2 separate regions of the Homo sapiens genome follow, and region 1 is linked to region 2. Evidence: fine-mapped expression QTL. A gene starts in region 2. The other region holds a variant in brackets. All regions are shown on one strand. Distances are between the middles of the regions.

Region 1 (16,894 bases), 30 kb before region 2:
GCTGAGGCAGGAGAATCGCTTGAACCTGGGAGGTGGAGGTTGCAGTGAGCTGAGGTCACACCACTGCACTCCGACCTGGGCAACAAGAGCAAAACTCCGCCTCAAAAAAAAAAAAAAAAAAGATTGTTCCTTAGAGTGAGAATTTTTCTCAGAAGCCTCCAGAGAACTACCCTAGAATCTCATTGGCCTGGACTGGGTCATATGCTCATTCCTGAGCCAATTTTTGTTAGTAGGGCAATGTGATGCCCTGATGGGCTTAGGCCTGGTTCTTGAACAAGCCATTTACAAGAGGGATGAAATTATCTCTAGACCATTCAGAAACAGAATTGTGTTTCTGTTAGGAAAATTTTTTTTTTTCTATGAGTAGGTGAATGGACGCTGAGTAGATTGGTCGAAGAGGAATTGTGTTGGCTGCTGATAACAGTGCTTTAAAGAAGACAGGTTATTTTTCTCTCAAAAAATATTAAGTCCAAAGTAGATAGTCTGTTCCTGGCATGGCAGTTCCACAGTGCCATCAGGCAGCCTAGATCTTTCTCTCTTTCTGTTTCACCATGCTTATCACACAGCTTGCAGTCACCAAGTGGTCGCACGTGTTGGCTCTGGCTCTCTAGCCAAACGGTCTTTGAGGCAGGAAGAAGTAGGAAAGGGGAGGGCAGAGGACACCCTTTAAAGTACCCTAAGTCCCAACCACCATGTTCAGTTTACATCTCATTGTCCATTCTTACTTGTGAAGAAGGCTGGTAAATGCAGTTTCTTAGCTGTACACATTGCCATTCCCCAAAACAGGGATTCTGCAGCTGTGGAAGAATGAGAAATAGATACAAGCCTGGAAGTGGGCAGTGCCCACCACAGGAGGCGGCCAACAATGTCAGCTATACCCTGTATTTGGAGAAAATTGCAGTTTTTACATTGACTTTCCTCTTTCTTTTCTTTTCTTTTCTTTCTTTCTTTCCTTCCTTCTTTCTTTTTTTTTTTTTTTTTTTTTTTTTTTTGAGATGGAATCTTGCTCTGTGGCCTGAGCTGGAGTACGGTGGCACAATCTTGGTTCACTACAACCTCCACCTCCTGGGTTCAAGCAATTCCCCTGCCTCAGCTTCTGGAGTAGCTAGGATTACAGGCGTGCCCCACCATGCCCAGCTAATTTTTGTATTTTTAGTAGAGACAGGGTTTTGCCATGTTGGCCAGGCCAGTCTCGAACTCCTGACCTCAGGTGATCCACCCACCTTGGCCTCCCAAAGTGCTGGGGTTACAGGTGTGAGCCACTGCGCCTGCAATGCCCGGCCTGCATTATAAATATTTGTTCATAATGTGTTGCTAACAGTGACAATCAATAAGAATCAACTGGGTTTGTTCCCCAGCCTGTTTAGTTTTATTATTGTGATTACAAAATAATTAAATATTATGTTAACCAATGAAATGTAAAGGGAAAAAGGAAAAAAGATACTGCTTTTATGAAAAATAAGTTGAATGTGCTTACCTGATAAAGGCAAATGGCTAAGAAAAAATATTTTTGTCAAATTAGGGGTGGAAGAGACCTCTGAAAAGATTGAAGAAAAAAATTATAAAAATATGGAGATTCTGACAGATAGGGTAACTCTCACCTGTAATCCTAGCACTGGGAGGCTGAGGCAGGAAGATTACTTGAGGCCAGGAGTTTGAGACCAATCTGGGCAACAGTGAGACCCCGTCTCTACAAAAAGAAAATTAGCCAGATGTGGTGGTGTGTCCCTGTAGTCCTAGCTACTTGGGAGGCTGAAGTGGGAGGATCACTTAAGCCCAGGAGTTTGAAGTTACAGTGAACTATCATCACGCCACTGTACTTACTCCAGCCTGGGACACAGAGTAAGACCCTGTCTCCAAAACATATATATACATATATGTTTCTGCCTTCAGAACACTTCACAAGTATCATTCCAGTAAAAACTGAAAATCATAGATGTACATCATGAGTGTAGTTCATGCAGAAACTTTAATTGCTTGAACTTACTCTCAAGAAAAGGCCTTCACTGGGCACAGTGGCTCATGTCTATAATCCCAGCACTTTGGGAGGCTGAGGCAGGTGGATTACTTGAGTCCAGGAGTTCGAGACACAAGCCTGGGAAATACAGCAAAACCCTGTCTCTACAAAAAATACAAAAATTAGCAGGTTGTGGTGGTGCATGCCTGTACTCCCAACTACTCGGAGGCTGAGGTGGGAGAATCACCTGAGCCCAGGGAGGTTGAGGCTGCAGTGAGCCATGATCATGCCATTGCAGTCCAGCATGGGTGACAGGGAGAGACCCTGTCTCAGAGAAGAGAAGGAGAGGAGAGAGGAGAGGAGAGGCTTTCATCCCTTAGCCAGTATTTGGAAAATAAACATGCATTTTTAATGATTCCTCTCTTTAACTGTATTTTTTAAAAAATGAGTTATACCATTATTAGTTCTGATTCCATCAAGGAGAGAACTTCTACTTTGTTTCTTAAGTTGTTATGTATGGGTTACTGTGTATCAATTGAAATGAATATCACCAGGCCTTATTGTTGGTCATTATAAATTGTGCCCTGGTGAACTTCTTTCCAGAGACATCTTCTCTAGTATATTTTTTGTTTTTTTGAGTTCTTTTTTTTTTGAGACAGAGTCTTACTTTGTTGCTTATGCTGGAGTGCAATGGTACAATCTTGGATCACTGTAGCCTCTACCTTCCCAGTTCAGGCGATTCTCCTGCCTCAGCCCCCCGGGTAGCTGGGACTACAGGCATGCACCACCACTCCCGGCTAATTTTTGTATTTTTAGTAGAAACGGGGTTTCACCATGTTGACCAGGTTGGTCTCGAGCTCCTGACCTCAGGTAATTCCACCCGTCTCAGCGTCCCAAAGTGCTGGGATTACAGATATGAGCCACTGCACCCAGGCCCCTCACTGATTTTAAATAATGTGAAGTTTGGAATGTCTCAGGGAGTTCAATGTAATGGAATTTGTCCTGATGTTATTTCTTTTTCCAAATCACATAGCACTTCAAACTTTTCTTTTTATAACATTTCTCATAAATAGTCCTCCTCCATAATTACCTTTGTGTTTATTTTGTGTCTGCTACTAAACTCTTAGCTTGTTGAGGACAGGAGTCCTTCCTTGGACCTCTGTACATCCTAACATACAATGGGTGCTCAATTTATGTTCATGGAATGAGAGAATGAATCAATGTCACTGTCTTCTATTATTGCATAGACATCTTCAGTAACACTTCCTTTGAATTCATTGTCAGTGGAGCTAGTCTTGTAGCCTTTTCAATAGCTTACATTCCGTGTTGGAGCAAAAAATGTTAAATGTTTATAAGGTAATTTCAAATATAAGCAAAAGTAGAGAGAATGGTATAAAGAAACCTCCATTATCTATAATCAAGCTTCAACAATTACCAGCATTTTAGAGCAAATTTTGATTTAGGATAAGGGTAGAGAGAATATGATGACATCAGGATGCTGATTTTGATTTTGTGGGGAGAGAAGCAGGCCATGTGTGGTGAGCAGGGTAGAGAAAGAGGAGGCTGGTGGCCCAAATACAAACCTGCCTCATAGGAGTTGTCTTGAGGATCACTTGAGTTGACATAGGAAAGTGGGAAGAACAATGCCTCACACATGGTGAGTACAGCCTAAGTGCTCCCACCACCATTACTATCACTCCTGCGTAGTTTGTGGGAGCTGAATGTGGGAGCTGTGGCACTTACTAACTTGGTGACTTTGGACACCGACCTTTCTGAGCTGCAGTTTCTTCGTCGGAAAAAATGGGAATAGTAATAACATCTTAAACATAGCATTGGCGGGGCGCGGTTGCTCATTCCTGTAATCCCAGCAGTTTGGGAGGCCAAGGTGGGCGGATCATTTCAATTCAGGAATTTGAGACCAGCCTAACCAACATGGTGTTGGTTTTAATGGAGAACCCTGTTCTCCATTAAAAATAGGCTGGGCATGGTGGCTCATGACTTGTAATTCCAGCACTTTGAGAGGCTGAGGCAGGCGGATCACTGGAGATCAGGAGTTCGAGATCAGCCTGGCCAACATGGTGAAACCTCGTCTCTACTAAAAATACAAAAAATTAGCCGGGTGTGGTGTTGTGCACCTGTAATCCCAGCTACTCAGGATGCTGGGGCAGGAGAATTACTTGAACTTGGGAGGTGGAGGTTGCAGTGAGCCGAGATCGCACAACTGCACTCCAGCCTGGATGATAGAGCAAGACTGTCTAGAAAAACAAAAAAACCCAAAAAAGGTAGCATCTTATCCCACACAGGCAGTGGAATAATATATGTAAATATGTTCTGGGTTAATTAACATTAATCACAATTTTCCAGAGTGGTTTTCTAGTCTGGAGGGAGGGACCATGTTTCTGGAGGTTTTTTCGGGAGTCAAGCCAATTCCTTCTGTGTATTCTCATTCTGAGACTTCATAATATTCGTGGCAGAGTCATTTGTCAGCCTAGCAAATAAACATTACAGGACAATAGGCTTTGTTTCCGTTTGCAAAATGTTTTTTAAATAATGAAAACAATTTTACTTTATGTAGCTTGTCCATATATGCACTGAAAATGAAATACTTATCAACCAAGTTGATAAAGGGATAAAAATAGTTTTCCTAAGGAAAACTATTTGCTGGGGATTTGTGTTGGACAAGTTTTGTAGCAGTCTGTTTCCCCGTCTTTGAAATATAAACAGCATCTTTATTTGTCTAGATTTTGCTTATAACAATTTGCTCAACTCCTAATTAAAGATAGCTCTGTCATCCACACATCACTTAGCTACTTTCCTAAAGCCAGAATTTCTTTAGAAAATCAGTTTTCTTTTAAGACTTCAAAACACTTTGCCTTCTCCTTAGTACTATAAAGAATTCTAATTATGTAGGACATTCATCCAGCCACTCCTCCCACCACACACACACACACACACACACACACACACACACACACACACACACACATATATCTGTCTGAGATAATAATTAGATACTGTGGGAAGAGAAATGAAATATCCCTGATGGTTTTAATAATTTTCTGCAGTGTTTGTTTGGACAAGAAAATCAGCTGTCACATCCCCTGGGTATGAGAGTTATATAAACCCAGATCAGAAAGTCAATGCTGCAGACTTAAATTCTCAGGAAGTTTTAAAACTTTTAAAACTACCACTTGCCTTTTGGATTTGACTTTTTAAAAGTTTGATTTTTGCTTTTTCAGATACTAAACTTTTGGCATTCTTAGTATTTGTGATTTATAGCATCTTGTACTTTTATAGACTTACTTATTCAAACAAACTAAACCCCCACTCTATGCCCAGATAACAAAAAAACACGTACAAGATACAGTTTTATCTCAAAATGAGCAATATCCTGAAGCTATCATTTGGTCCCAGTGACATATGAACTGTTCGTTTTTTTCCCCATATACTGTTCTGTGTAAATGTTCTATTACACAGTCTTTTTTTCTGGATTATTTTTCTGGAGATTTCGTTATACTTTGTTGATGTTTCTTTTCAAAAGCTCCCGCACAAATCATCTCCAGTAGTCATCCAGCCAGTGTTGTACTAGAAGATGTGTTACTTCTAATTTAAACTTCCATTTAAGGCTTGACGCTGTGGCTCACACCTATAATCGCAGCACTTTGGGAGGCCAAGGCAGGAGGATCACTTGAGCCCAGGAGTTCAAGACCAGCCTGGGCAACAAAGTAAAACCCCATCTCTACGAAAAATGGAAAAAAATAGCTGACATGGTATCACATGCTTGTAGTCTCAGCTACTTGGGAGGCTGAGGTGCGAAGATGGCTTGAGCCCGGGAGGTAGAAGCTGCAGTGAGCTGTGTTTGCCCCACTGCACCCCAGCCTGGGTAACAGCATGAGATCTTTTCTCAAAAGAAAACAAACTTCCATTTGAGAAAGTGACAGAAAAGTTTTGGATTTTTGTAATTATAGGAATTCTTTACTTTTCTTTGATAATATTATATCTCTTTCAGTGAAAAGGGAGTTAGGAAGAGATCTAAATGTACTCTTTGATCTTCCTTGTTAATCATTTAAAAATGGAATTCGGAGCTAATTTTAACTTCTGAAGGACCTGGGGGAATTTTATCTAGCACCTGAGGTATACCTTAGTTTTTTATGTATTGAATCTTTAGGACCAGTTTTATTCTTTCATTTAAATATGTAGTGAGCATCTAGTATGTGCTTACCATTGTGCTGTGTGTTTATATATATTATCTCATTTAATTCTCACACAAGCGTTGTTAGATACATAAAAGGGGACTTCAAAAAATTCATGGAAAAAATTGAATTAAAAGATAAAAATGAAAAATATAAACTTTATTTCTCAATATAAACTCCATCAAGTTCAAGGCAATATTGTAGTGATGATACCGGCCATTTAGCCCGTCCCTAAAGAACTGAGGGTTCTGGAAATTTAGCCATATTAATGCAGTCTTTTTTACATTATTAACTGAAAAAAAAAATGGATTCCCTTTAAAGATTTCTTAAGATTAGGAAACAAAAAGAAGTCAGAAAGAGCCAAATCAGGACTGTAAGGTGGATGCATAATGATTTCTGTGCACAGTGATTTCCCATTGAAATCTCGCAAAAATTGCCCTTGTTTGATAAAAGGAATGAGCAGGAGGAGTGTTGTCATGGTGGAGAAGGACTCTGGTGAAGCTTTCCCAGGCGTTTTTGTGCTAAAGCTTTGGCCACTGTGCCCAGCCACAACTTTCATTTTGTTAAGTCATCTAATCCTTACAACTGCTCCATGAAATAGGTACTATTATTATCCTTATGTTACAGATGGAGAAACTGAGGCAGAGAGCGGGACAGTAACCTGCCTAAGGTCCCAGAGCTCTAGAGTCAGTGGTCTTAACCTCTATTATGACCTCTCACTTAATGAGGGCCAGATTTCCCCTCTAGCTTTTTATTATGAAAAATTTCAAATGTGGAAAAAAATTAACAAGAGTACAATGAGCACCTGTATCAAAAACCTAGCCCAAACAATTGTTAACATTTTGCTGCATATAGTTTATCTGCATGTGTGTATTTCAATTTTTTGCTGAACTATTTGAAAATATATTATGGACATTATAATTCACTCCTTAAATACAAAACAAAGCAACATTTTCCTGTTTTTTTTTTGAGACGGAGTCTTGCTCTGTCGCCCAGGCTGGAGTGCAGTGATGCTCACTGCAAGCTTCGCCTCCCGGGTTCACACCACTCTCCTGCCTCAGCCTCCCCAGCAGCTGGGACTACAGGCACACGCCGCCACGCCTGGCTAATTTTTTTGTATTTTTAGTAGAGACGGGGTTTCACCGTGTTAGCCAGGATAGTCTTGATCTCCTGACCTTGTGATCTGCCCACCTCGGCCTCCCAAAGTGCTGGGATTACAGGCGTGAGCCACCGCGCCCGGCCCAACATTTTCCTTTTACTTGGTAAATGCATTCTTGGAAAATACATTGCCTCTAAAATCATGCAAAAGTACTTTGCTACAGACAAAAAGGAGTGGAGTTCTAGGTTCAGATAACTGTAAAGAGCTTTACATGAGTATCTTGATATTTAAAAATCAAGCAGAGTAAAGGGACAATTTTTGTTTCTATAAGACAGCCCCTCAATTTGCTGGATGTTTAACATCTTGGTCTCTACCTACTAAATGCCCATTTGAATGAGGAGACAATTGACTGTTGTGTCAACCAAAAAATGCCTCCCATCCCCTCCGTTTCCAGAAAGTCCTCTAGCCAGCTGTGCCTGTTGAGTGTCATTGACTTGACTGGTCTTCTGCTGAAGGAGCTATAGGTTAAATTAAAATAAAATGTGCTGTCACAGAATCCTTATCATCATGATTCAGAGTTGAGGTAATAAAGGTGGTAGAACTTATCTGTAATTCTCCTTTAGTTCTACAACCACATATGCTCTAGATTTGTAAACAAATATTCATTTATTCTGTTGTATTCTACCACCACCACTTTGTTCCACAAAAGGTTATACAGCAGATTTTTATTTATTTAACCATTAAGAGTGTCTCCCCGTGTATTGGAATCGGCTAGGAAATATTCGTAATTGCTACACTTTTCTATATAAAAAGGGACTTGAAGCAGACTCAGGGCCAACACAATGTAGAATCTGTTTCTTCTAGCTTTATTTCTCCCTGTGCTGCTAGAGGTACCAAAGGGTTTGTCTCAACTGTTACTACCCCTGACATATTCCATTGATCTCTTTACTTTTCTCTGTTGTCTGTCAGTCTGTTTGTCAGACTTATCTCAAATGCCACGTTGTTTGCGCGTATTTCTCAAAGCCATCCATCAGGATACAATCTAAATCATCACAGCACATTCTGTCTTGTGACACTAAGCACAGACTGCCTGTGTTACATTTGATTGTGTGTTTCCCTTTTCTTCCACATATGTTTCAGTAGTAATTTCCTGGGCAACTTATGTGTGGCGGGCCTTGTTTGGGATCTTGGAAATAGAGAGATGAAGCTCTCCTACATAGTCTCATTTACTTCCAATTTTGCTTTCTTGATAATTGGAGTAGCCTTTTCTAGCTTGTATCCCCTGCAGTACCTGATGCATTGCCTTGCTCAGGGTAATTCATATATATTTCTGAATTCAGTTTGGAATGAAAGGAGACAAGCAGGCACTTTTGAATCAAATCTGGTGCTGCCACTATGCAACTGTATATAAATCTAACCCAACCCCTGTGCGCCAGGTTCCTTATCTGTAAAACATGGATAATAACAACCATCTTACAGGATTGTTGTAAAGTTTAAAGATGAATTGTATGAAGCCTAGCAGAGTTATTGGCACGTAGTAGGTGCTCATGAAGTAGTTGTTATTGTAAGGGAGGTTCAGTCATTCCTTTAGGTCACTTGAGTGGGCAGTGGAAGCATTTAGGATCTTAATTGTCTTTAGGGAAATGCTTACTTAGTCTGGGGGCTTCTCCGAGAAGCAGGCTCTGGGGAAGGTCTGGCTCATTGCTGATTAACTGTTCCCTTTTTAGAGTCAATGATCTGAGTCTGTGTTTTGGAACCACTTATATAATGTATACCACCTGTTATTTGTGTATTTTTAGAAGTGGGAGT[C/T]GGGTAATCCTAGTCCTGTCAGTAAAAGAGCAAACTGTTTACCAGAAGCAGAGCTTTTTTCTTAACACTGACTCACACTGACTCATCTTTCTCATTTTTCTTCCCACCGCCTCATAACAACCTTGCAAGAGAGAGAATTTTTAGGGAATCAGTTGACTTACTTTTTTGTGATTTTCCAAAGTTGAAAGCTTGAAGGTATCAGGTCATTAATTCCATCCCAGGAAAGGCTAAAGTTTATGCTGCCTCGGAGTGCCAGTATGACCAACGCCATGTAGTGAATATCTCACATAAACCCTTGTCTAGACAAACCACTTCTGTTGGCTGAGAGGTTAGACAAGTGCCTGAAGTGTACATGTTAAGAGTAAACACATTTTGCTCTTTGAAAATGGTTGCCTTAAGTTGAACCTGGAAAGTTTGCTCTTCTGAGATAGGAAACCCAAGCAGTATTAGAGTCAGAGCTGTGGTAGCTTCACAGATGGATTTCAGATAACAGAGAGGCCAGACAGCACATTAGATCAGCAAAATGGTGAAGGAAGCTTTATAGATCAGAATGACTGATATCTTTGTGCCTTCATTTAACATTCATTAAATGAACATTTACTGATCATCTGTGATATACTTGGTGCTAGGGTTATGACAGTGACTAATAAAAACATAGTGCCTGCTGTCATGGACCTTATACTCTAATGCTCGTTTATAGTAAATGCTAAGGGAACAGAGAGATGCCTTGGCCTGCATATGTGAACATGTTCCTGTGCACACGGGTGAGGGGAGGAAGGAAGGCTCCTTGGAGGAAAAGGCACCCAAGCTGAGTCTGGTGGGGTGAGTAGGCATTAACTAGGAGAAAAGGGTTAGTTAGGGGAATGTGGGGTTGGCTGAAGAGTATTACATGCTGAAATGAGCTATGAGTCTTGGGGTCGAGAGAAGAGCTTGCCCTTGGAGAAGCTGAAAAAAGTGACCAAAGGACAGTGAGAGGGAAGTTTGGCACAAAATAAATTCAGAGAAGCTAACAGTGACAGCAGAGCATTGTAGACCAGTTTATTAATTTAAAAAAAAATTTTTTTTTTTTTGAGACAGAATCTTGCTCTGTCGCCCAGGCTGGAGTGCTGTGATATGATCTCAATCTCAGTTCACTGCAACCTCTGCCTCGCAGGCTCAAGCAATTCTCGTGCCTCAGCCTTCCCAGTACCTGGGATTACAGGCACACACCACCATGCCTGGCTAATTTTTTTTTTGTATTTTTAGTAGAGACAGGGTTTCACCATGTTGGTCAGGCTGGTCTCGAACTCCGGCCTCAAGTGATTCACCCACCTCAGCCTCCCAAAGTGCTAGGATTATAAGTGTGAGCCACTGTGCAAGGCCTAAAAAATTTTTTAATCCAGATAAATTTAACATATAGTGAAATGCTCATGACAAATGCATATACCTATGTAACCAACACCCCATTTTGAGTAGGAACTTTTAACTTGGTAGTCAGAGCAAGGGGAAGGATGGGTTTTTGAGCAGGGTCCAGACTTGATGCTAATTGCTAGCTAAGAACTGGGACAAGGGTGAGGGGGTGAGGGGGTGGCAAGTACCAGTGGGGACAGAGCTGGAATAGGCAGTAGTTTGCTGGTGGGCAGGAGCTTCCAGCTTGGGGGCAAAAAACAGATTCTTGGTTTTCCTAACTTGTTTTTAGCAGAGGACAAACCTCTAAGTGCTTTGTAAGATCCAAAGTGTCTATGCAGAAGACAACAGACTGTGTTTTTTCAAAGATTTTCTGGGAAGACTTCCAGGCTACCTGCAGTTTGAAGAAAGTCTTCTGAAAAGGGCAGGGGGCGTGGGGGCACCTACAGAGACAGGATTTCCCCCAACTCGATAAGATACAGGAAAATAATCATCTTATTGATTTACTTTTGTTCTATAGTAATGTGACATTTTTTCTTTTCTGAGAGTAGGGTATTAAAAATTGTTACGGTTTTGGGTTTTACAGATTTGTTGAAGCTTAATATCATTTAAGTGTCCTATTTTAATATCTGTTTTAATATCTGTATTTTTGACAGACTGCCAGAAATCATTTAACATGTTACTGTGCTATTTTTGTTGATGTTGTCATTATTATTTTTGTTGATGTTATTCTTAAAGAAAAAAGAAAAGATACTATCGATAGAATTATCGTCAGTATTAGAAATTAAGAAATGTTTTAATTTCAATTGAAAACAAACAAGTAAACAAACATGAAAATGTATTGAGAGATGTGTGTATTCTCTACCTTTGTTTTATTCCTTTTACAAAAACTATAAGGAATAGTGCTTAACAGTGTACTGTCAAAACACTGACATCTATTTACAGGAAGTTCATTTCTGACCAGAATTGTTTGTTTGTCTCTCCAAAGCTTGCCAAATTCTATAGGTTTTATGTAAGTTTATAAATATTCTTGTAAACATTGGCTTTAAACTAAATCCTTCTAAATATCCAAACTACCATGTATCTTTCTGTGTCTAAATTCAGAGATACCATCCTGTTGGCTTTAGATAAGTTACAGAGTAGTTTAGGCCCACATGATTTAAGCTCACCCACAGTTCTTTGTTGATACTTGAGGATTTCATCTGAAAAGCATCCTGTTCATACTCTGAAAATATTTCTTTCATCTTAGTACTCCCACTCATTTTGTGTGTGTATATGTGTATAGATTATTTTATTGTTCCACATATATGTATATTTATTTTTTGTCCACTTGCTAGGGAACCTCATTTTTTTTAACAAGAAAATACTTGTGTGATAAGGTCATAAAACCCAAGAGTTGGGAGGAATATTAGAGACCTACTTTATTTATTTTATTTTATTTTATTTTTTTGAGACGGAGTCTCGCTGTGTCACCCAGGCTGGAATAGTGCAATGGCGTGATCTCTGCTCACGGCAACTTCTGCCTCCCAGGTTCAGGCGATTCTCCTGCCTCAGCCTCCCAAGTAGCTGGGACTACAGGTGCGTGCCACCATGCCTGGCTAATTTTTGTATTTTTAGTAGAGGCAGGGTTTCACCCTGTTAGCCAGGATGGTCTCGATCTCCTGAACTCATGATTCACCCGCCTTGGCCTCCCAAAGTGCTGGGATTACAGGCATGAGCCACCACACCCAGCCTAGAGACCTAATTTAAAGTTTATTGCTGCTTTATTACTCTGAACAACTACATCATTTATTACCTAAAATAATCTTTTTATTTTCTGTTCTCATTTAGCTGAATCTCTGAGCTTAAAAAAAGTGTGTTTGGCTTATATATCACATTATCCCACATATGTTACAACCAAAACTTAATTATTAGCCATAATAGTGTCTTTTGGCTAATATTAGTAGTAAGATTTTTGTTTGTTTGTTTGTTTTTTGAGATGGAGTCTGGTTCTGTCACCCAGGCTGGAATGCAGTGGCGCGATCTCGGCTCACTGCAACCTCTGCCTCCTGGGTTCAAGTGATTCTCCTGTCTCAGCCTTCTGAGTAGCTGGGATTACAAGCGTGTGCCACCATGCCTGGCTAATTTTTGTATTTTTAGTAGAGACGGGGTTTCACCATGTTGGCCACGCTGGTCTTGAACTCCTGACCTCAGGTGATCTGCCCCCCTTGTCCTCTCAAAGTGCTGGGATTACAGGCATGAGCCACCGCGCCTGGCCAATAGTAGTAAGTTAATGAAGATCTGTACTAAATTTGGATTCCAAGTGAAACATTTCTTTTTTTCTTTTTTATTTATGGCAGAGTAGAGGGTTGATAGATATTTGTTGGCTTTATTAGTTTTCTCAAATTGGTATGTAAAAATAATACTAGATATATAGGTTTAAGTCTCCTTCATAAGATTTTCTTTCTTCTAAACCTTTGGAATATGCCATGCTTTTCAAAAAGCCCCACTCATTATTTTTATGATAGTGGAATAAAAGTCTCCAATTTGTCAAGCTCATTATTCAAGCCTTCCAGGATTGTTTGCAGTTTTAAAATAAACTGCTGGGGGTTTTATGCATCTTGCAATATGAGTACTTAATTAAAATTAAAAAGGGGGCCATGCATCTATCTATTCTATTAAGGTCGTATATAAATAAATGATTTTATTGGGATTTTCAGTGTATTTAGAGTAATCTATACTTAATGAGAGGGACTTGTACTTTTCATTTCTTTGTACTATTTTTCAGCCTTTCCTGAACAGTAAATGTTTTAAAAAAAACTATACCCTTATTCCTTGGTCTCTAAGAACTGTGGTGGGCTGGGCGCGGTGGCTCACCCCTGTAATCCCAGCACTTCGGGAGGCAAAGGAAGGTGGGTCACTTGACAAGGTCAGGAGTTGGAGACCAGCCTGGCCAACGTGGTGGAACCTCGTCTCCACTAAAAAGACAAAAATTAGCTGGTGTGGTGGCGAGCGCCTGTAGTCCCAGCTACTCGGGAGGTTGCTGCAGGGGAATTGCGTGAACCTGGGAGGCAGAGGTTGCTGTGAGCCGAGATCGCACCACTGCACTCCAGCTGGGTGACAGGTGACAGGTGACAAAAAAAAAAAAAAAAAAGGCCAGGTGCGGTGGCTTACGCCTGTAATCCCAACACTTTGGGAGGCTGAGGTGGGTGGATCACAAGGTCAGGAGATAGAGACCATCCTGGCTAACACAATGAAACACTGTCTCTACTAAAAAAAAAAAAAAAAAATTAGCCAGCCGTGGTGGCGGGCACCTGTAGTCCCAGCTGCTCAGGAGGCTGAGGCAGGAGAATGGCGTGAACCTGGCAGGTGGAGCTTGCAGTGAGTGAAGATCACGCCACTGCACTCCAGCCTGGGTGGCAGAGCAAGACTCCATCTCAAAAAATAAAAAATAATAAAAAAAAAAGCTGTGGTGGAGTATATGGTACAAACATGAGACTTGGTGCTCTTTTGGATTCCTAAGGCTTTTCCATGTCTGAGAACTCAGGAGGCAGCCTTTGCATAGCAGAGGGACTAGGAACCTCACTATTTCTCCAAAGTTGACTAGCTTTCTATAAGATAACCCCCATAAAATCACTAGTCATTAGTAATAAAACTTTGTCTTTAAATGACTATAATATTTTTAAAAAGGACAATGAATATGTACTCTATGCCATCCCTTTCCATACTGTAAATGTGTTTCTGAAAGGTATGCTATTTAGATATACTTGAGTCCTATTCTAATATACGGAGAGGTTGCTTTTTAAATTGTCCTCATCATTGTGGTAGTAATAGTAATATTAGTAGTACTGGTAGTTAACATTTATGGAACACTTCATATATTTTACATACATAGCTTCCTTTAACCCTTATAATAATCCTATGAGTTAGGCATTTTATTCTCTCCATTTTGTGGGTGGGAGAACTGAGACTTGATATGTGGACTATATGATTGATCGATTGGTTGATTTTGGTAAAGTTCAGATATCTTTTGTCCTGTGCTTGACACTCTAAAATAGTAAGTATTTGGGTAACAAATAATTGTAAGAGAGAGAAAATCATCTTATCTTTTGGACTATTCCCTTCTATTCCATTCCTACTGCCAACACTCCAGTCCAACCTCACATTTCTTTTTCTTTCTTTTTTTCTTTTTTCTTTCTTTCTTTCTTTCTTTCTTTCTTTCTTTCTTTCTCATTCTTTCTTTTTCATTCTTTCTTTTTTTCTTTCTCCTTCCTTCCTTCCTCTCTCTCTTTCTTTCTTTCTCTTTTTCTCTCTCTTCTCTTTCTTTCTTCCCTTCTTTCCCTTCCTTCCCTTCCTTCCTTTCTTTTCATTTTCTTTCTTTCTTTCTTACAGGGTCTTGCTCTGTTGCCCAGGCTGGAGTGCAGTGGCATGATGACAGCTCACTGCAGCCTCCACCTCCACAGCTCAAGTGATGCTCCTGCCTCAGTCTCCCAAGTAGCTGGGACTATAAATGCGTGCCACTGTGCCCAGCTAATAAAGCTCCTTCTGCTGAAGTTATGCCTAAACCCTTCTTTGCACATGTCATTCCTTATCACTTATCACCTAAAGAATGACAGGGGGCTTTGGCTTTGAATGGCCCTCAGTATGTATAAGCACCTAAAGATTTCAGTTTATCTCAGCTTCAGAGCAGTCCATCTCATCTGCCTGTTTTTCTTCTTAAAATAAACTTTTAAAAAATAATTAAAGTTTTTAAAAGGTGCAGAATATTTAAGTAAGATTTCTTCTCCCCTTTCCCCTAAATCTCCATTCTCATTTCGTAGAAGTAAACCATTCTTAACAATTTCCTGGATAATTCTTCCAGAAATTATGCATGTCCAAACATAAATATAAAATCTATTGGTTGCTTAAAAAATCTATAAATGAGATCATATTATACAAACTATTCTACTGCTATTGTTCACATAGATACATTTTATTCTTTTAAATGACTTCATGGTTGTATCACTTACAAACCTTTTGGCTTTGAGTAACAGAAGCAGGGAATGTACAGAAGGGGTGTCAGACAAGGCTTCCAAATTATCAGAACCAAGGCAGGCCAGGGAATCATCATCCTGTTTTAGCTGAAGCAGCCAGGCCAGTATGTTGCCATCACTGCCCTTGGACACTGTCAGGAATAAATTCCAACTGTTCCTTTGTCATAGTGTCATTTTTTAAGGTTCAGAGTCCCAGTGAGACTATGCACAATGGGGAAGTACCCCCAAATAGAAAGAAGTGACTGGATGTTGGAAAACTTAAAAAATGATACATTTCCATTACATTGGTATTCTATTGTATAAACATGCCATAATTTATGTATTAATAACTAGCCACTTCTTGGTGAATATTCAGATTGTCATATTCAATTTTTTACTAGCAAAAACCACTGCTGCAAAGAAAATTATTTATGTCTTTGTGCATTTTTGTAAGTATATCTGTGAGATTAATTTCAAGAAGACTGTGCTGGATCAGAGAGTATGTATATTTAACATTTTGATGTAGCGCCGGGCATGGTGGCTCATGCCTGTAATTCCAAAACTGAGAGGCTGAGGTGGGCGGATCACTTGAGCTCATGAGTTCCAGACCAGCCTGGGCAACATTTTTTTCATGGGCAAAACCCGGAGAAGAAAATATGAAAAAAATACAAAAAAAAAAAGAAAGAAGGAAAGAAAAAAGAAAATTAGCTGGGCATGGTGTTGCACACCTGTAGTTCCAGCTACTCAGGAGGCTGAGGTGGGAGGATGGTTTGAGCTGGGGAGGCGGAGGTTGCAGTGACCAGAGATTGTGCCACTGCACAGGAGCCTAGGTGATAGAGCCAGACCTTGTCTCTAAATAAATAAATAAATAAATAAATAAATAAATACCATTGTGATGTATATTGTAATTCATGCTTAGAAGCTTTCACTGGTTTACACTCCCATCTACAAAGTGAACTGGCTTTTAACTTACAAGATACAAAGTTATTTATGGCCATATATTCAGCAAAAGCCACAAAGTGTCACACCAGGTGAAAAGGGAAGTCCAAGTTTCTGAGGTATAGAGTTTCAGTATTTATCAGGTAAGCATAGCTACCAAAGCCATTTTTGTTCTGGAAGCATTTGCTGATCCCGAGAAAGCATTTTTTAGGTTAAGCTGTATTTTTGGTGTCTTCATATATGAGGACAGAATTCTTAGCTTGTTGTCCGTCAAGGATGGGGAATCAGATAAACCACTTTTTTAGTTTGAATGGAACCCCTAAGGGCATAAGAGGGAACTTGAACTAAGCCAACCCTCACAATAGCCTTGCCACCAAGCTTCTAGGTGTAGGGAATGTAGACCAAGATCTTTCATCATTATGGTTCTCAAGTAATAATGCCATCAGGCAGCTGGCAGAAGCAAATGCAAATTTTCTCTCGAGGAAGATGTTATCATCCCGGACATCAAAATAGTCCTCTA
Region 2 (16,894 bases):
CATGAATATGACTTTTTAAAAAGTCTCTGAGTCTAGAAAGGCATCTGTCTCCTGCTTACCCCTCACCCTGAGGCAGCCATTTTATTTTTCTGCTTTTACTTCTTTTGGTGGTTACTTCTATTTCTCTAAATAATGTTACTCCCATTTCCTTTTTTAAATGAATTTTGTTTTTGTCAGAAAGGTACATGCACATAGTTTGCCTTAGTCTTTTTAAGGTCAAATATCATAAAAGATTTGTAATAAAAACCATCTGTTCCCTGCCCCCACCCTTTCTTTACCCTTCCTCCTATCCTGCTCCCAAGGGCATACACTTTTGATCCTTTTAGGCGTTTGATCTAGCATTTATCTCTCTATATCTAAATAATATGCTTATCGAGATATGGTTTTTTTTAACTGTATTACAGAAATTTTGAAACATGTACAAAACTAGAAAGAATAGTATAATGAATCCTCATGTACCACCCATTACCCGGCTTCAAAAATCAAAAACCCATGACCAGTTTTGTTTCATCTGTGCTGGTAGCCATTTTCCCCTGCCACTAGATTATTTTGGAGTAAATTCTAGACATCATTTTATCAGTAATTACTTCAGCATGTTTTTTTTGTTTTTGTTTTTGTTTTTGTTTTTGTTTTTGCAATGTCGCCTGTCACCCAGGCTGGAGTGCAGTGGTACGATCTTGGCTCACTGCTACCTCCACCTCCCTGGTTCAAGCAGTTCTCCTGTCTCAGCCTCCCAGGCAGGTGGGACTACAGGCACACGCCACCATGCCCAGCTAATTTTTTTATTTTTAGTAGAGACAGGGTTTCACCATATTAGGCTGGTCTCGAACTCCTGACCTCAGGTGATCTACCTGCCTTGGCCTCCCAAAGTGTTGAGATTACAGGCGTGAGCTACCGTGCCCAGCCTAGCATGTACTTTTAAGAGAATAAGGACTCCTTTTAAAAATATAACCACACTATCACACATAAAATAATTAATAATCCTTTATTATTAGCAGTGGTCTCCATTTAACTCATAAGTTATTTTTTTAGTTCTAGTCAGATCCAAACAAGGACCTCACATTACCATACTGCTTTTTCTTGACTCATCAGTTTTTTGTTTGTTTTTGAGACAGTCTCGCTCTATTGCCCAGGCTGGAGTGCAGTGGCACCATCTCAGCTCACTGCAACCTCCACCTCCCAAGGTTCAAGTAGTTCTCCTGCCTCAGCCTCCCAAGTAGCTGGGATTACAGGCATGCGCCACCATGCCTGGCTAATTTTTGTATTTTTATTTTTGAGACGGAGGCTGGCCGTCACCCACGCTGGAGTGCAATGGCATGATCTCGGCTCACTGCAACTTCTGCATCCTGGGTTCAAACGATGCTCCTGCCTCTGCCTCCGGAGTAGCTGAGATTACAGGCACCTGCCACCACGCCCAGCCAATTTTTGTATTTTTAGTAGAGATGGGGTTTTGCCATGTTGGCCAGGCTGGTCTCAAACTCCTGTCATGCAGCTGGTTTTGATCAGACATCCTGTCATGCTTTATTTGGCCATTCACAATCAATAATAAAAGACTTCTTTAAGGGGATAGGTCTCAGTTCATCTGTTTGTCCCATAGGCCTCTGCCCTGCCTGGGAAGCTGCTGGGTACTGGAAGGGTACTAAGGTACTAAGTGGAAGATGCTTTAGGGCACATGAGCAGGAGCAGCAGTTAGACTGAGGGCCCTTCACGTGTTAGCATAAGGAGGCCAGTCTCTTACTAGAAGCCCTCGATCAATCCTAGGCAGTTCATTCAATTTATTTAAAGAGGCCTCCTGTCTTTGGCTGTGGTTCTGCAGAGCTTTTGGGCCCTCTGTGTGCTGCAGGTATGGGATAGAGGAGCTGGCTGGCACAGGACCTTCAGTGGATCCCTTAATTTTTTGGCCCTTCTGAATCTTCTCGACGCCTGCTGTCTTCAGGTTCAGAGCCTCCCTGGGGTCCCACACCATTCCTTGTCTCTCATTTCCAATGGTGCTTTCTTGTCCTTGTGCTCCAAACTTCAGCTTCTGTTGTCATACCTCTCTGAACTTTTTCTATCTTCCGGAAATTATTTGAAATGAAATCCCTTGTTCTCTAATGATCCTTCCTTCAGCAAAAAGGCCCAATTTGTAGTTCAGAAGACGTGGTGCTTTTTACAAAAAGTATGTTAATGTTTTACCATAGACTGGACTAAGTAGAGTGTGTGTGTGTGTGTGTGTGTGTGTGTGTGTGTGTGTGTGTTTAGAAAATATTTATTGAGTTTCCTATTTTATGCCAGGCACTCTTCTAGGCACTTGGGATAGATGTATTCAGTGAACCAAGGAGACATACTGTTGACTTTGTGGAGCTTACAGTCTGGTGGGGAAACACATGGAACGTGTACTTATAAATATGTTAAGGGTTATAAGAAGAGACATAGGAGTACCATGAGACCAGTACAGCAGGGGGAGCTAACGTGGCTCAGAGAAAAGGGCGCCCTAGGGAAGTGATATTTAATCTGAAATCTGATGGCTGAGTAGGAGTTAACCAAAATAAGAGGGAAGAGCCCTTCAAATTTGTATGTCAAAGTGCAGTAGCAAGTGAGAGTCTGAGACCAATAGAGAGTAGCAAGTGAGAGCCTCAAACCTTCTCCTGTTGGAGCACCAGGCTGTACTACCTCAGGATAGTCCCTTGCCTTCTCTGGATCTGGCATTCCTCACCCCTAAAATGAGGAGACCACATGCTCCTTTCAGCTGCAAAAATCAATGAGTCCAAGACTGTTTAAAGTTAAGGTCACTGTTTAAGTGAAGGTCCATCTCTCCCAAAACAGCTGTAGTTGGAAACTTATCTCAAGCTGGTGGGAAGTGGTTTGAAAAAAGGCAGGGAGGGGACAGTGTGATATCCTGCGAACCTATCCAGTTTCTAGCCACATAATCACTGGGGTCAGGCTTCTCTTCTCCTTCTGGCTCTCCTTCAGACACACCAAATCAGCAGTCCAAAGGGGACCACAAAGTGGATCCTCAGGACATCGAACCCTGAAGAAAAAGCAGCCACGTGTACTCCAAAACCAAAAAAATACGTTGAGCAATGTCTTAGTCATCTTTTGTGGGTTTGATTCCCCATCCCCCAAAAATGACTTAAGTTTCTGATTTCAAAACATTGTGTGTATGTGTGTGTGGTTTTTTTTTTGAGACAGATTATCATTCTGTCACCCAGGCTGGAATGCTGTGGCATGATCTCATCTCACTGCAACCTCTGCCTCCCAGGTTCAAGCAATTCTCCTGCCTCAGCCTCCCGAGTAGCTGGGAGCCTCCTGAGTAGCTGGGACTACAGGTGTGCACCACCACGCCCAGCTAATTTTTTTGTGTTTTTTTTAGTAGAGACAGGGTTTCACCATGTTGGCCAGGCTGGTCTCGAACTCCTGACCTCAAGTGACCTGCTCGCCTCAGCCTCCCAAAGTGCTGGGATTACAAGCGTCAGCCACCGTGCTTGACCAAGAACATTGTTTTAAGTGTAAGTGTGGTTCCTTCTCTGGGGCCTTACACCAGGATTGTGGTGAGACGATGTATTGTTCTCCTTTCTTTTTTCCTGTTCTTCTGTATTTTCTTATCTTTTTACAATAAGCAATTATGATTATAATTGGAAGAAAACAAAATCTACTTTTATTCGTAAATCTCAATCAATATACTTCTCAATTAATTGTCTAGAAAAAGCATGGACCTTCTAACTGCATGGCACAGTGAATAAGTGAGTTGGAAATGGTATGACAGCTGAAACCTGCCTTTGATGGGTGATGAGCGATTGCACTGTACAGCAGCTGTGTGGACTAGAAAGTGGGTAGTGGTGGCCAGAATTTCTTTATTCATATACTCCTTCAACAGATATCCGTCAGTTGCTAGCTGATATAGTTTGGATGTCTAACTATATTGGTGGATAGCTGTTGGATGTCATGTTGAAATGTGAACCCCAGTGTTGGAAGTGGGCCCTGGTGGGAGGTGTGTGGGTTATGCGTACAGATCTCTCATGAATGGCGTGATCCCCTCCCTGCTGTAATGAGTGAGTTCTTGTTCGGTTAGTTCAAGTGAGAACTGGTTATTTTTTAATTAAAAAAAATTATTTTGGCCGGGCATGGTGGCTCATGCCTGTAATCCCAGCACTTTGGGAGGCCAAGGTGGGCGGATCACGAGGTCGGGAGATCGAGACCATCCTGGTTAACACGGTGAAACCCCATCTCTACTAAGCATACAAAAAAATTAGCCGGGCATGGTGGTGGGCGCCTGTAGTCCCAGTTACTCGGGAGGCTGAGGCAGGAGAATGGCGTGAACCTGGGAGGCGGAGCTTGCAGTGAGCCGAGATTGCACCACTGTACTCCAGCCTGAGACTCCATCTCAAAAAAAAAAAAAAAAAAAATGCAAGGGACTACATGTGTGCACCACCATGCCCAGCTAATTTTTGTATTTTTAGTAGAGACGGTGTTTCACCATGTTGGCCAGGCTGTCTTGAACTCCTGACCTCAGGTGATCTGCCTGCCTTGGCCTCCCAAAGTGCTGGGATTACAGGCGTCAGCCACTGTGCCTGGCCCTGGTTGTTTAAAAAGAACCTGGCACTTCTCCCTCTCACACTTGCTCTCCATCTTGCCATGCAACATTCCGGCTCTCCTTTCCCTCTACCATGTCTAAAAGCTTCCTAAGGCCTCACCAGAAGCAGATGCTAGTGCCATGCTTCTTATACAGTCTGCAGAACTGTGAGCCAAATAAACCTCTTTTCATCATAAATTATTCAGCCTCAGGTATTCCTTTATAGCAGTGCAAACGGACTAACACTGCGTAACAAATTAATCAATCTGTGCCTGTGATTTTCTCATGTGTCAAGCAGGGATAATAATTATACCTACCTCATAGAGATCCTTATGGGGTTAAATGAGGTAATTTATATAAAGCAGTTAGAATACAACCAGGCACGGTGGCTCACACCTGTAATCCCAACACTTTGGGAGGCCAAGGCAGGCAGATCACTTGAGCTCAGGAGTTCAAAACCAGCCTGGGCGTATGGTGAGACCCCCGTCTCTACAACATAAATAAATAAAATAAACAGAATATTACCTGGCATATGGTAAATATACAATAATAGTTTTGGGGTTTGTTTATGGATTTCCTTATTTTAATAAGTATCTCATAATATGTACAAAATGCTGCTATATTAGACACAGATCTTTTCCTTAAAAAGTTAGGATTCTGGCAGAGAAAAAAGACCTGCCCCCAACTAAATATGTGTCATCAGAGAAAAGGGTATGTTTCTTAAGAGAGAAACAGAGCATACTAAGGAAATTCAGAGGAAGGAGAGACCCCTTCTAAACTGGGGGTAAAAGGTGGAATTAAACAGCCAAAGTTTCCTTCATCCTCAAATGGAGCTGATGCTGCTGTCTGTGAAAAACAGCCAAGTTTCCTGAAGGGAAGCCCTTTAAGAGGTGGTAGTGCAAGGGGGTTGTGGATTCAGGACTGGCACCACATGGTCCCTAGTTAGAGTGCAGGCTCTGCCCCTTGCTCCCGTGAGCCTTTGAGCAGGTTGGTCGGCTCACCATGCATCTGTTGCTACAGCTGTAAGATGTGAATATTAATAATGTCTCCTGCACCCGATTATTGTGAGGATGACATGAAGTGGTGTTCATAGAGTGCTCAGTGCACAGCTTGGCCCCAGCCCACATAAGTGTGTCCAGTATTGTCAGTTATAAGAAGAAATGAATGTGCCAGTGTTGCTATGGTTCTGTCTTCCGGGATTCTGTCACAGACGTAGAATTATTCCGTTCACAAGGGAAGTGATACAGAGTACATGTTGTTGAAGAAAATGATGTTGTTTTTATGAATGGGCTCCTTACTATTATTTTTGTTCAAGTAACAAAACATGATTCAAAGCACCCATCTTCAAGAGCCCAGCCTCATTTCCTGACACCTACTCAGTCTTCTGGAATAAAGGCTCAGCCAAACAATAGCCCTGACCTCCAGTCCCTCCAAACTGAGTGTTGCTGCTGAGAACAGGCCTTACAGCTCTGGGTGGGCTTTTGTTCATTACTCATCGTGACATTCTGGAGAAATACAGGACCCTTTTGACTTCCCGACCAATCTCTGACTTTCTTTCATTGTCACATCACCATTAGGGCAAAGGATGATGAAATGGTCAGAATTAGACAAGAAGTATTCAAATATTTTTCAATGTATAGTATGTGCCAGGCACATAACCCACACAAGAACCTTGGAGAGTAAGGCTGTTATTCTTCTCATTTTACACTGGGAAACCAAAGCACAGCAAGAAGGTCTAGGGACCAGAAGGAAGCCCACATCTCTCTGAGCTGTGAACGGCTGCTCTCTGTGGGTTACCAGGCTGGTGTTTTTTTGTTTTGTTTTGTTTTTTGTTTTTTGTTTTTTTTTTAAAGACAGAGTCTCACTGTCGCCCAAGCTGGAGTGCAGTGGTGCAATCTCGGCTCACTGCAACCTCCATCTCCTGGGTTCAAGCAATTCTTCTGTCTCAGCCTCCCAAGTAGCTGGGACTACAGGAACACGCCACCACGCCTGACTAATTTTTTTTGTATTTTAGTAGAGATGGAGTTTCACCGTGTTGCCCAAGCTGGTCTCAAACTCCTGAGCTCAGGCAATCCACCCACCTCGGCCTCCCAAAGTGCTAGGATTACAGGTGTGAGCCACCGCGCCCGGCCAGGCTGGTGTGGTTTTTATTCCACAGCAGTCCTACGTCACATTGTCACATTGTTGAAAAGCCTTCAGATTGACAAACTCCCTCCTAATATAGCCTGTTTTCTTGGATGTTTTCTGATAAGCATCTGTGTTTTCTGAGAACTAATAAAAATTCTTGTTAAACCACAAATTACCACAGCCTCTTCCTTACCTATAGAGAGCCGCTTTCCCAGTAAAGCTCCGGTCCTACCTTCCCATCACCATCAAAGTGGCATTGAAACAGATCAGATCTGCTCCTTTTGAGGGAGTTAGTTGAAGCCCAGTCTTGCTTCAGGCCACACAGGATTTGGGTAGCAAAGCAAGGAAAGCAGCCTCTCTGACCTAGTGGCCTGAGTGTTTCCTTTCCCAGGCTGGCTGCGGCAACCACTTTGAGAAATGGCATTGGCATTGGCATGTGTGTGGCATGTGTGCTGACCTAGTTAGGAGTTGAGGCTTCATTTCTAATTCTGTCCCTTTCGTTTTGAGCTGTGTGACCTTGGGCATGTCACCTAACTTCTCTGTATATGTCTTCTTATCCAGGAAGGAGAGATTAATAATGTAGCCTCATAGCACTTATCTGATTCTCCTAAGGATGTTATGAGAATCAAATGAGATTATGTACAACGAGAGCAAACATTTATTCAATACTTAGTATGTACCAAATACTTTCAGTTTCCTTACATGTGTTTTTTAATTCTCACAATCCTAAAACAGAGGCACTAGTATCCCACTTGACAGTTAAAAAAACTGAAGTTCAGAGAAATTAAGTCAGACAGGACTCAGATCCACATCTGTGGCTCCCAAATGATGTTCCTAACCACTATGCATGTCACTCGCTCCCCATTGTACACGAAAGTAGAGAGATGTTCTTTGTCTTTACCATCAAGCACTCTCCAAATGCAAGAAATGATCTCTCGTAACCACTGCTGTTCCATGTTGGTCCCTAAGGACACTTATAGCCTGTTACTTGTTTGTCTTATCTTGTAGTTTATGCTGCTGCTTTTCATGTCCCTAAGGACTTGTTCAGTGAATTCTTTTGGTTTTACTCCCAGAGAATCTGTTCATCTCCTTCATAAAGGGGGTTAAAGGTGCCCAGCTGAGCCTGGCATCTTGGGCAGTGGCCTCTGACTTCTCCAGGGTTCTTCCTTCCCTCAAGCATGTAGTTGGGTAGCTTGTAGTAAAATGCTCTATAATGCATTTGTTTATAAGTTCCCCAGTCACTGATTTTTACTCATTGAATCTCAGAAGTGGAAAGCACCAAAGCCAGCATTTTGTTGATAGGGAAACTGAGGTCCAGAGAGGGATGTGACTTGCTTGAGGTCATTCATTCAGTTGAAGGCCTGACCAAGACTGGAACCCAGTTTCCCAGGGGACACACCAGTGCTGTTTCCAAGCCTTCCCCGGGGGCACACATCACCTCCCCTACATGAAGGACAAACTCATGTACTGTGCCCAGCATGTACCTAGGAGACCTGGGAGAAATGAAACAACTTGGAAAATTGGGCAGGAAGAAAGAGATGGGTGTGGGGTGGGGTGAAGATCTCCACCCTAACTAGTATATTATATACCAAAGAAAGGAATTAAACACACAGGAAAGCAGACAACCCACTAAGAAGCAAAGGAATTTACCCAGGAACCCTGGCTCAGTGAGTGGATAGGAAGCCTTTTGTCACTAAAGCTGCAGGGTTGAAAATTGAAGGAAGGATATTAGGCAAGCGTGGTGGCCTGGGATGCAGTTACAGCCCCCTGGCTCATTGTCCAAAGGAAATGGATCTCTCCTGTGGACAGAGAGGTGGAAACTGAGTGAGTGAGTTGTGTGGTTGACATCATCAGGCTGAGCATTGGATTACAACAAATGGGGACTTACTTGGCCCGAGACATGGGAAACACCCACTAAAACCTCAAAGTGCTTTTCATTTAGGAGACACGGGGAAGAGACAGAGAGGAGGGTAAAGTGAGAATCCTGCCCGCACCACAGGTCTGGACTGCTAACCTTGAATCCTGGTTTCTTAAATTCTGCCTCCGCTTCTGACTGAGGACCACTGGATTTTGAGGAAACTTTGGTCTTGTAAGTAGAACTTTACTCTCCTCCCCTGCCCAACACCCCCAGGGAGAAGCAGAGCTTGGAGGCAGAGCTCTCTGGAGAGCTTGCTTTCCAGCCTGTTGGCCACAAAATGTCTATTTTTATATAATGATATATGTGAGCTTGCTCTGAAAATTATGGCCTTGTCTGAAACTGCCTAAGGCTAGTCGGAGCCTCCAGTCTCACAAATGGGCTCCATTCAGATGCTGTTTCATTTTTACTCAAAGAACTTTGACAGAGTATTCAGAGCTTTAAAAGCAGCTCCTTGCTCCAAATATAGGTGAAGAAATAAATCTTCCCTAAGAAATTCGTGTTTGTAAAACCCTTTCTTTTTTTCTGATTACAAAGGTGGTATAATAATTTTTAAACATTCTAGAAAGAAAAGTCTCCGAAAGTAGTGAAAATTCCCTATTATCTTCCCCCTCAGGAACATGGTTGTTGTGTTAAATTTCAGTTACAGATATGGTCAGACTCCATGAATTTACCACATATAAACCCAGTGCTGCAGCAGCTGTGTGGAAAACTCCAAGATGGAAAGGGGTTGGAAATCTTTAACCTTGGGTTTGCGATCTTTTTATTGCTTCCTTTTAAAAATTTGCTGTTTATGCCTGGAATATAAACAGGACATGTAAGCCTTTAGGCATTTTATTTGTTGGTATCTGTTTTCAGGGTTTGAAACTAAGCAAGCTACTCTGTAGAGAGGGAAAGAGGGGGCCCTTGCTGTACCCAGGTCCCTTACTTGGTGGGTCCCTGAACTGAGGAGGATTCCTAGGTGGCTTGAGATGGCTTGCAGTGTGCTAACAGGGGAGGTGTCCCCTCTTAGCAGGTTAAGTATATTTGAAAAGTTACAGCTAACGGGAAGATTTCAGCTTCAACAAAAAGCTACCATATATTAGAAGGGTCACCCAAGGAAACTGTCACCTTGGGCAAGTGTTTCACACTCTCTGGGTCTTGTTTCTTTATTTGTACCTAATGAGGGGACAAAACTAGATGATCTCTGTATTTCCAAATTCAGTATGAAATGAACTGTCCATATTTCTTTTCCCTTTGTATTGGGCCCTTATGGCTTTAGGAGCAAAGGACCCTAGGTTTTCAGTTTCCCAGAGTAGCTAAAAACGGGTGCCTGTAGGACAGTTAAAAGAAGACATAAAACAGGCAACATTAAGTTACTTCTGAGTTTTTATGGGTCTTTTTCAGATTAGGTGTTCTTGAAGAAAGAGAAAGAAAAAGTCTCAGTGGTAACTGTATGTGCACACGCATACACTAGCACATACACTTGGGGAGAGAGGAAAGAAGGAATTGGCATTATTGAGTATCTCTTAAGCACTAGGCCCTATGTTATGCTCAACCCTTTACAGAGCACTAGATGGTCAGTATTATTCCCTAACCCCATTGACTGAGGACAACCATCTACTTATATGTTTTCATATTATCCTGAACTAAACTGTATTTACATAATTACTGGCATAACTTCAATTCCCCATGTCTCCACTAGACCATCTGCACCTTCTCTGCGTGTCTGTCTAGCCCATCACTATGCCCCACTGCCTAGTAGAAAGCCTGGCACATAGGTACAAAGGAGACACAACTTAATTTAAACTTAAAGCCCGCCATCCTAGTTCCTCATTTGGCAAGAAAGAGGGAGAAGAAGGGGGAAAATCCCTCTATTTGCCCCTCTTTCATCATTTAACATAGAGCCACCCTCTCCTGCCACAAGGGAAGGATAGCCACAGCCAGAGTGCAAAAAAAAAAAAAAAAAAGCAAAAGACGTCAGATCTTGAATTTTGAGTTTCCAAGGTGCCGGGTCTTGACAAATTAAGGTTTTTGCTTTGTTTTGTTTTGTTTTTGTTTGTTTGTTTTGTTTTCTTTAAGGGCATCAGAGACCCTAATCCTCAGGAAGTTGTGGTATTTAGAAACTATTTGTTTGAATTAAGGTCCTAGTTAATAAGAGGGTTCTCAAAGGCCCTTGGCACTTCTTTTTTTTTTTTTTTGAGACGGAGTCTCACTCTGTCTCCCAGGCTGGAGTGCAATGGTGCAGTCTTGGCTCACTGCAGCTTCCACCTCCCGTTTTTGTTCAAGGGATTCTCCTGCCTCAGCCCCTCGAATAGCTGGGATTACAGGCGCCTGCCACCACGCCCAGCTAATTTTTGTATTTTTAGTAGAGATGGGGTCTCTTGGCACTTCTAAAGCTGCAGTCTTCCCCAGCATTTCATCCCATGAAGGTGGACTGTTGCTGCCATGGACCCACCCATGGGCATGGGCAGTGGGAAGGCCAGGGCATCCTCTGCTTCATCCCAGCCCCGCTGGGATCTTGAGATTTGGGGTAATCAAAAAAGGCATCCTTTTTCCTAAGGTGGTGGTGAGGAGGTGATGTTCTGGAAGGAAGGTACCTAGACTTTGTGGTCCCTGCCAGGAAGTGGAGAGTGGAAATGTGGAATGCCTCACACTCCTCAACTAGGTAGGCCTTCATGTACCAGATGAGGGTGGCTTTCAGTTCTTGTTTTGTGTGTCAAAGTTGCTCCTGTTATCAGTGTGTGTTTGCTGATCTCTCCCACCTCAGTCACTCCCGGCAGTGAGTTTAGGGCATCTTGGGAGTGGAGGTAGGTTGTGGAAAAGATGTGTCCAGAGATCTCATTTGGCTTTGGTATCTTCCTGAAATAAATGTCACACACAGGGCTGGGCATCTTGCATATGCTGACTTCTCTTAATCTTCACAGCAATGATGTGAGGCAGAGATCATCTCCATTTTACACCTAAGAAAGGCACAGAGAGGTGCAGTGGATTGCCCAGAGTCTCACAGCTGGCAGGGGCTAGAGCTTGAGTTCCCAATGAGAACTGGTTGTCCCCGAAGCCCTTGAATATTTCACCATACTGCAGTGCCTTTTTCATATCACCTCCCTGGATCTCAGTTGCTCCATCTGTTAAATGATGACAAGTGAACTCTAGTCAGAAGTCAGAGTGGTGTTTTGTTTTTAATTTGAATGCCTTTAGGCAGGTGTGTTCTCCAGTTCATTACCATTTGCGCATTCCCCTGTGCCCTCTAGTCTCCTGCCTGGCCCCTGGCCCCTGTGGGAATTTGCAGCCCTGCATCTGGTTGGTGTCTACCGTTTCTTTCGATTTAGACAATCTAGAGGGCAGTGAGAAATTGGAAAGGGGTAGCAGGTAAGAGCTCTCGAGTTCAGTGAGAAATTGGAAAGGAATAGCAGGTAAGAGCTCTAGAGTTCAGTGACAAATTGGAAAGAGATAGCAGGTGAGAGCTCTTGAGTTCAGTGAGAAATTGGAAAGGGACAGCAGGTGAGAGCTCTCGAGTTCAGTGAGAAATTGGAAGGGGATAGCAGGTAAGAGCTCTGCTTTCACCGCCTCCTAGCTGGGAGATCCTGGACTGATCACCTCACTTTATAGAACCTACTTCTCTTTCTGTCAAGTGGGGGGTCACAGTCATACTGACCTCAAAGGGGTGCCATGCGGATGAAATGAGATAGGGCTCATAAAGCACTTAGTTAGTACAAAAATACATGCTTAGGATTAGCTGCTCTCAATTTCCAGAAAGAGAATGTCAGCCAATGTACACAGGCATCTGCCCCCTCAGACATAGGATGGCATTTGCATGAGGAACCAGAAGTTATCTTTGAACTCATCATTTTGAAACCCCTGTGATGAACCCTGGAGCTGCCATGTTGGCTCTTCAAACCAAGCCTCAGCATTATTTCCTGTCACCCAGTCAAGTGATGCTGAACCTCAAATCAGCCAGCCAGTGCTGAGGCCAAAAGCAGAAGTGGGTGCTATTCTCTTGGGACCAGAGGACCCTAGCCCAGCCACTTAAGGAAGAAGCTGGTAACAGGTGCTGGCTGTGACAGACAAGAAGCTGAACTGGCCCAATTAACTCTGCCAAATGCTTTCACGAGGGGCCAGAAGCAATTCCTAAGTGGAGACTGAGGTGGAAAATCTAAAGTTCTGGGAAACAGGTTATTAATCATGACCCTAGGCTGAGCTCACTACCTCCTGGAAATCCTTCAGAAATGTCTTAGGAAAACTTGGAGTACTGCTCCTTCAAAGAGTGGTTTCTTTGGAAGTTGCCGTGGGCTCCTATGCTGACTGATTATGAATTGCAGATTAGAACACATAATGTATCCGCTCTTACTGGAGGAAGCTGCATTTCCAAAAAGAAGTCTCTTTAATGTTTCAAGAAATTACAGGCTTTAGCTTGACTCTTCAGAACTGAATAATGGCCCTTCATGGCACCGAAGAAAGTATTTGGTGTATTCTTACTATGTCCCAGGAACCTAGGTCAGTTACTGTTTTAGTACTTTATCAGTGTAGTCTTTAACATTCCATAAATGTACATTGAGGACCTGTTAGTACTAAGCACTGAACTAGAGGACCAGGGTAAAGACACTGCCTCTGGTCTTGTGGAATTCTCTGTGCAACAAGGGAAGATAGACAGAGGAGTGAATAATTTTAATGGCACGTGAAAAGTACTGCAAAAGAAATATGCACAAGTGCTACAAAACACCAGACACTGGATCAGCATATTGTGGAGGTCCTGATCTTGCGCTGGGTTGATTCCTTCTGCTCTCTCCCTACAATTCCTGGCTCTGGGAGCTTTGCCAGCATTTGCATTAGGGAGCAACTGAGAGCTGCCCCTGCTGAAGCACTCATTTCTGGCACCTTCCTATCCCCCGTGGCTTCAGAGGGGTGGAAAGAACACTTCCTTACAAAATGTATGGGCCCCACCTGAGAGGGCCCTGAATCTGAAGTCCAAAGTTGTAGTAAGGAAACAGAGGGACGGGTGACTTTTGTAGTCTAAAATCACCACTGATTTTCCGTTGGTTTGTTTTTATAACATTTATTGTGGATTTTTTTTTTCTGATTGCAAAATTAGAATATGTTCAAGGGAAGAAAAGCTAGATAGTACAGAAAAACACACTTAAAATAAATCATCACTCAGTGATTTCACTTCTCTGTTTTTGAATAAGGGCCTGTCTCCCAATCCCCCCACCCACATACCGCTGTATTTCAAGTTTAGCTCTAATTTTAATTTCTCCCTGGGCAAAGTCTCATGTTTGTTTGCATATCTCAAAGGTGCTTGTGTTGTGGGCTCCAATCACTACTATCTGCAATTGGTTAGAGCCTGCGGCCATCATTTATACTTTCCTGGACGTGTGTGTAGATTCATCTACTGCTAAGAACCCTTTATGTGTTAGGCATTATGCAAGGTGCGGTGGGGAATGTCGAGGTAAATAAGACTTTGAGGTTGCTCATGGCCGGATAGGAAAAAAAGACTCAGATAACATGAACACATTGTGAAAATGTGCCCCAAGATGGGGACAGAGTCCTGTAGAAAGCCTAAGAGATTGGAGGAGCAGTAGCATTTGAGCTGAGCCTTCAATAAATTTTTCATGTATTTAGCCAATATTTGTTGAGAACCTAATATCCGCCAGGCACTGGGCAAGGTGATAGGTGGATGATGTTAAATATAACAGGCATGGCCTTTACCTGCATGAAGTTTACAAGCACAAATGGTGGCGTTAAGAAGTCAATAAGCAGGGGGAGTGAAAGAGGAGAGTGTGGCTGGGGTCTTCCTTGAAAAGGTGGTATTCAAACTGAGAAGAGGGCTGGGCGCGGTGGCTCATGCCTGTAATCCCAACACTTTGGGAGGCCAAGGCGAGTGGATCACCTGAGGTCAGTATTTCAAGATCAGCCTGGCCAACATGGTGAAACCCCGTCTGTACTAAAAAAATACAAAAATTAGCCGGGCGCGGTGGCACGCACCTGCAGTCCCAGCTACTTGGGAGGCTGAGGCGGAAGAATTGCTTAAACTTGGGAGGCAGAGGTTGCAGTGAGCTGAGATTGTGCCATTGCACTCCAGCCTGGGTGACAGAGTGAGACTTTCAAAAAAAAAAAAAGAAATGGAGTCACTTATACCAAGAGTAAAGGAGGGAGAGGGAGTAAAGAAGGGTGCTGGATTATTCCTTCCTTTGCTCATTATTGATTCTAAAAATCTCACTTATTTTCTGTATTCAGTTTCCTTTCTATTGGAGAATATTCTTGGGGTCTGTGAATGGTAAACTTGCCCAGTCTTTGTTTGAAAATATCTTTTGCCCTCACACTTGATATGTTAGCTAGATATAGAATTTTTTGCATAGCATGTGTAATGAATGTGAAAGTTATACATGCCTCTTTAAAAGTTTTCAATCAAAACAGAAATAGATAATGTACAAAGTGAAAGTCTTTCATTTCTTTTCTCACAATTTCTCAAAAGAGAATAATTTTTTTCAAAAGAGAGAAGTTTCCCAGGGGGAACCATTGGTTACAGTTTGCCCTTTTCTATATATACTGAAAATTGTTTAAAGTGTAAAGTATGTATACTTTTTAAAAATGTGCACGTACACAAATGCTGTACTTTTTTTTTTTCTAAACATAAATAATCATGTTCACATTTGAGCAGGACACAGTAGTTCACACCTGTAATCTCAACTAGTCAGGTGGCTGAGAGTGGATGATTGCTTGAGGCCAGGAGTTTGAGGCTACATTGAGCTATGATTGCACCAGTACACTCCAGCCTGGGGACAGAGTGAGACCTGGTCTCTTAAAATTAAAAAGAAAATGTAAAGTTCTTTTTTTAATTAAAAAATGATAATATATGCAATTTTACAATATGCTTTTTAACAATCAAGCATGTACTTTTTTCCACATCAGTACAATGAAATCTCCTTCATTCTTTGAAGTTGCTGTATAGTTTCTCATGATATTGATACACCATAATTTAACTATTTTTCTATTAATAGACATTTAAGTTGTTTTCGCCCCTTGGTTTTGCTACTATACAGTATTTCACTGAGTATCTTTTTACTTAGGTAAATATATCTGTAGTATAAATTCCTGGACATTTCAGGAATGTGACGTGTCTAGGAATTTGACCCCAAAGGATATGTATGCACATTTAACAAGTTAATAGATATTGTCAACTTGTCTTCCCAAAAGATTGTTTCAATTTATAATCCCAGAGTATGTCTGGCTCTAATTTTTGTTTTTCTTCTGGTTCCTTAGAATTCCCGTACTGATTAGTCAACAGTGGAAAATCTGAAGAGATGCAAGCAGGAAAAAGAAATTAAACCAGGTAGGTAGTGGCACTGTTCATACTCTACTGCCAGAGCAGCACACGTTTTTGCCTGAATATCTTTATTTCTGGTTGAAGGAAGAAAATACGTAAGTTCCAAACTAAATTAGTGGGAGATTTTGACCTTATGAAGAAAAGGCAGGATGGCTCTTTTCAGAAGTTATATACATAACAGCATGCTACAATTTCACAGTCAAGATTCTGTTTTCAGGCGTTTTTTTTTTAATAGCATCAGAAAGAAAATTTACCTTTGGTGGCTTAAGAGGGGATGGGTTTCCCGGCCATGTACTTAAGCTTAAGCAGGTGGAATCATACACAGGAGTTATTAGCAACATTGGGCCTGGTGCCAGCTTTCCTCTCCACCAAGTGTTTGCTGTAAAGCTGTTTTCACAAAGACCAGGGCACATTATGGGAATTTTCATTTTAATGCTGTAATAGAGGAGCAAAAGCCAGCAAAACCCAACCCAAAGAAATGGGTTCGGCCCAGTAGTCTGGTGAGAAGGGATGAAGATGCAGTCCCTCCAGCTGAGAACAAATTGCCATTCAAAGAGCACAAGTGGCCCACCTGGCAGTATGGCCACCTTGGGTCCAGTGTCCATAGTTTATGATATCTAAATGTTTCTGGCATAAGTTAATAATTTTAAACTCAGGGTAACATAATAATCGACTTTTTACCTAAAGCAGCAGTATTTATCAACAAATCTGGTGAATTTCTTTGAATTGTCAAGTTGGAAGTACTGGGTCCACAGAGATCTTTTCACCCACCAGGCATCCATCAGCATCCATGGATGTGGTTGTTAAGGTATCAGAATTGAAGGCTATTCTAGATTGGCCTACACCCACCTGGACCTTCTCCATAGCTGGAATTTTCACAAAGAGGCTAAAGAGCCTGGGGATGAGCGCATCGCTCTGAAGAGCTTGCCGAATCCACTGTGCATCTGTCCATAAGCTAAGGATGGTGTGAGGACTGAAAGCTGCATGGGAGAGAGAA

Alleles and levels. Positions count from the first base shown, and alleles are read on the strand shown. Sizes are in standard deviations (SD) of each study's normalised expression.
As copies of C replace T in region 1, the expression in breast of the gene that starts at base 8,616 in region 2 goes down (moderate effect, 0.63 SD a copy in GTEx).

Evidence for each region. PIP is the estimated chance that this variant, and not a neighbour inherited with it, causes the effect.
Region 1: its variant is fine-mapped to the expression of PKIG in breast (GTEx, PIP above 0.99). The same link has a PIP of 0.9 or more in subcutaneous fat.

What each region holds. Positions count from the first base shown.
Region 1 is chr20:44,543,962-44,560,855 of GRCh38, forward strand. It overlaps a transcript of PKIG not described here. Among named protein-coding and RNA genes, the nearest start is that of PKIG, 30 kb to the right of the region's middle. The variant C/T (reference allele first, on the strand shown) is at 9,059.
Region 2 is chr20:44,573,964-44,590,857 of GRCh38, forward strand. PKIG (cAMP-dependent protein kinase inhibitor gamma) reads left to right here and starts at 8,616. Exons shown (of 4, transcript NM_001281445.2): 1 at 8,616-8,768; 2 at 15,834-15,903. RefSeq lists an enhancer at 5,557-5,696.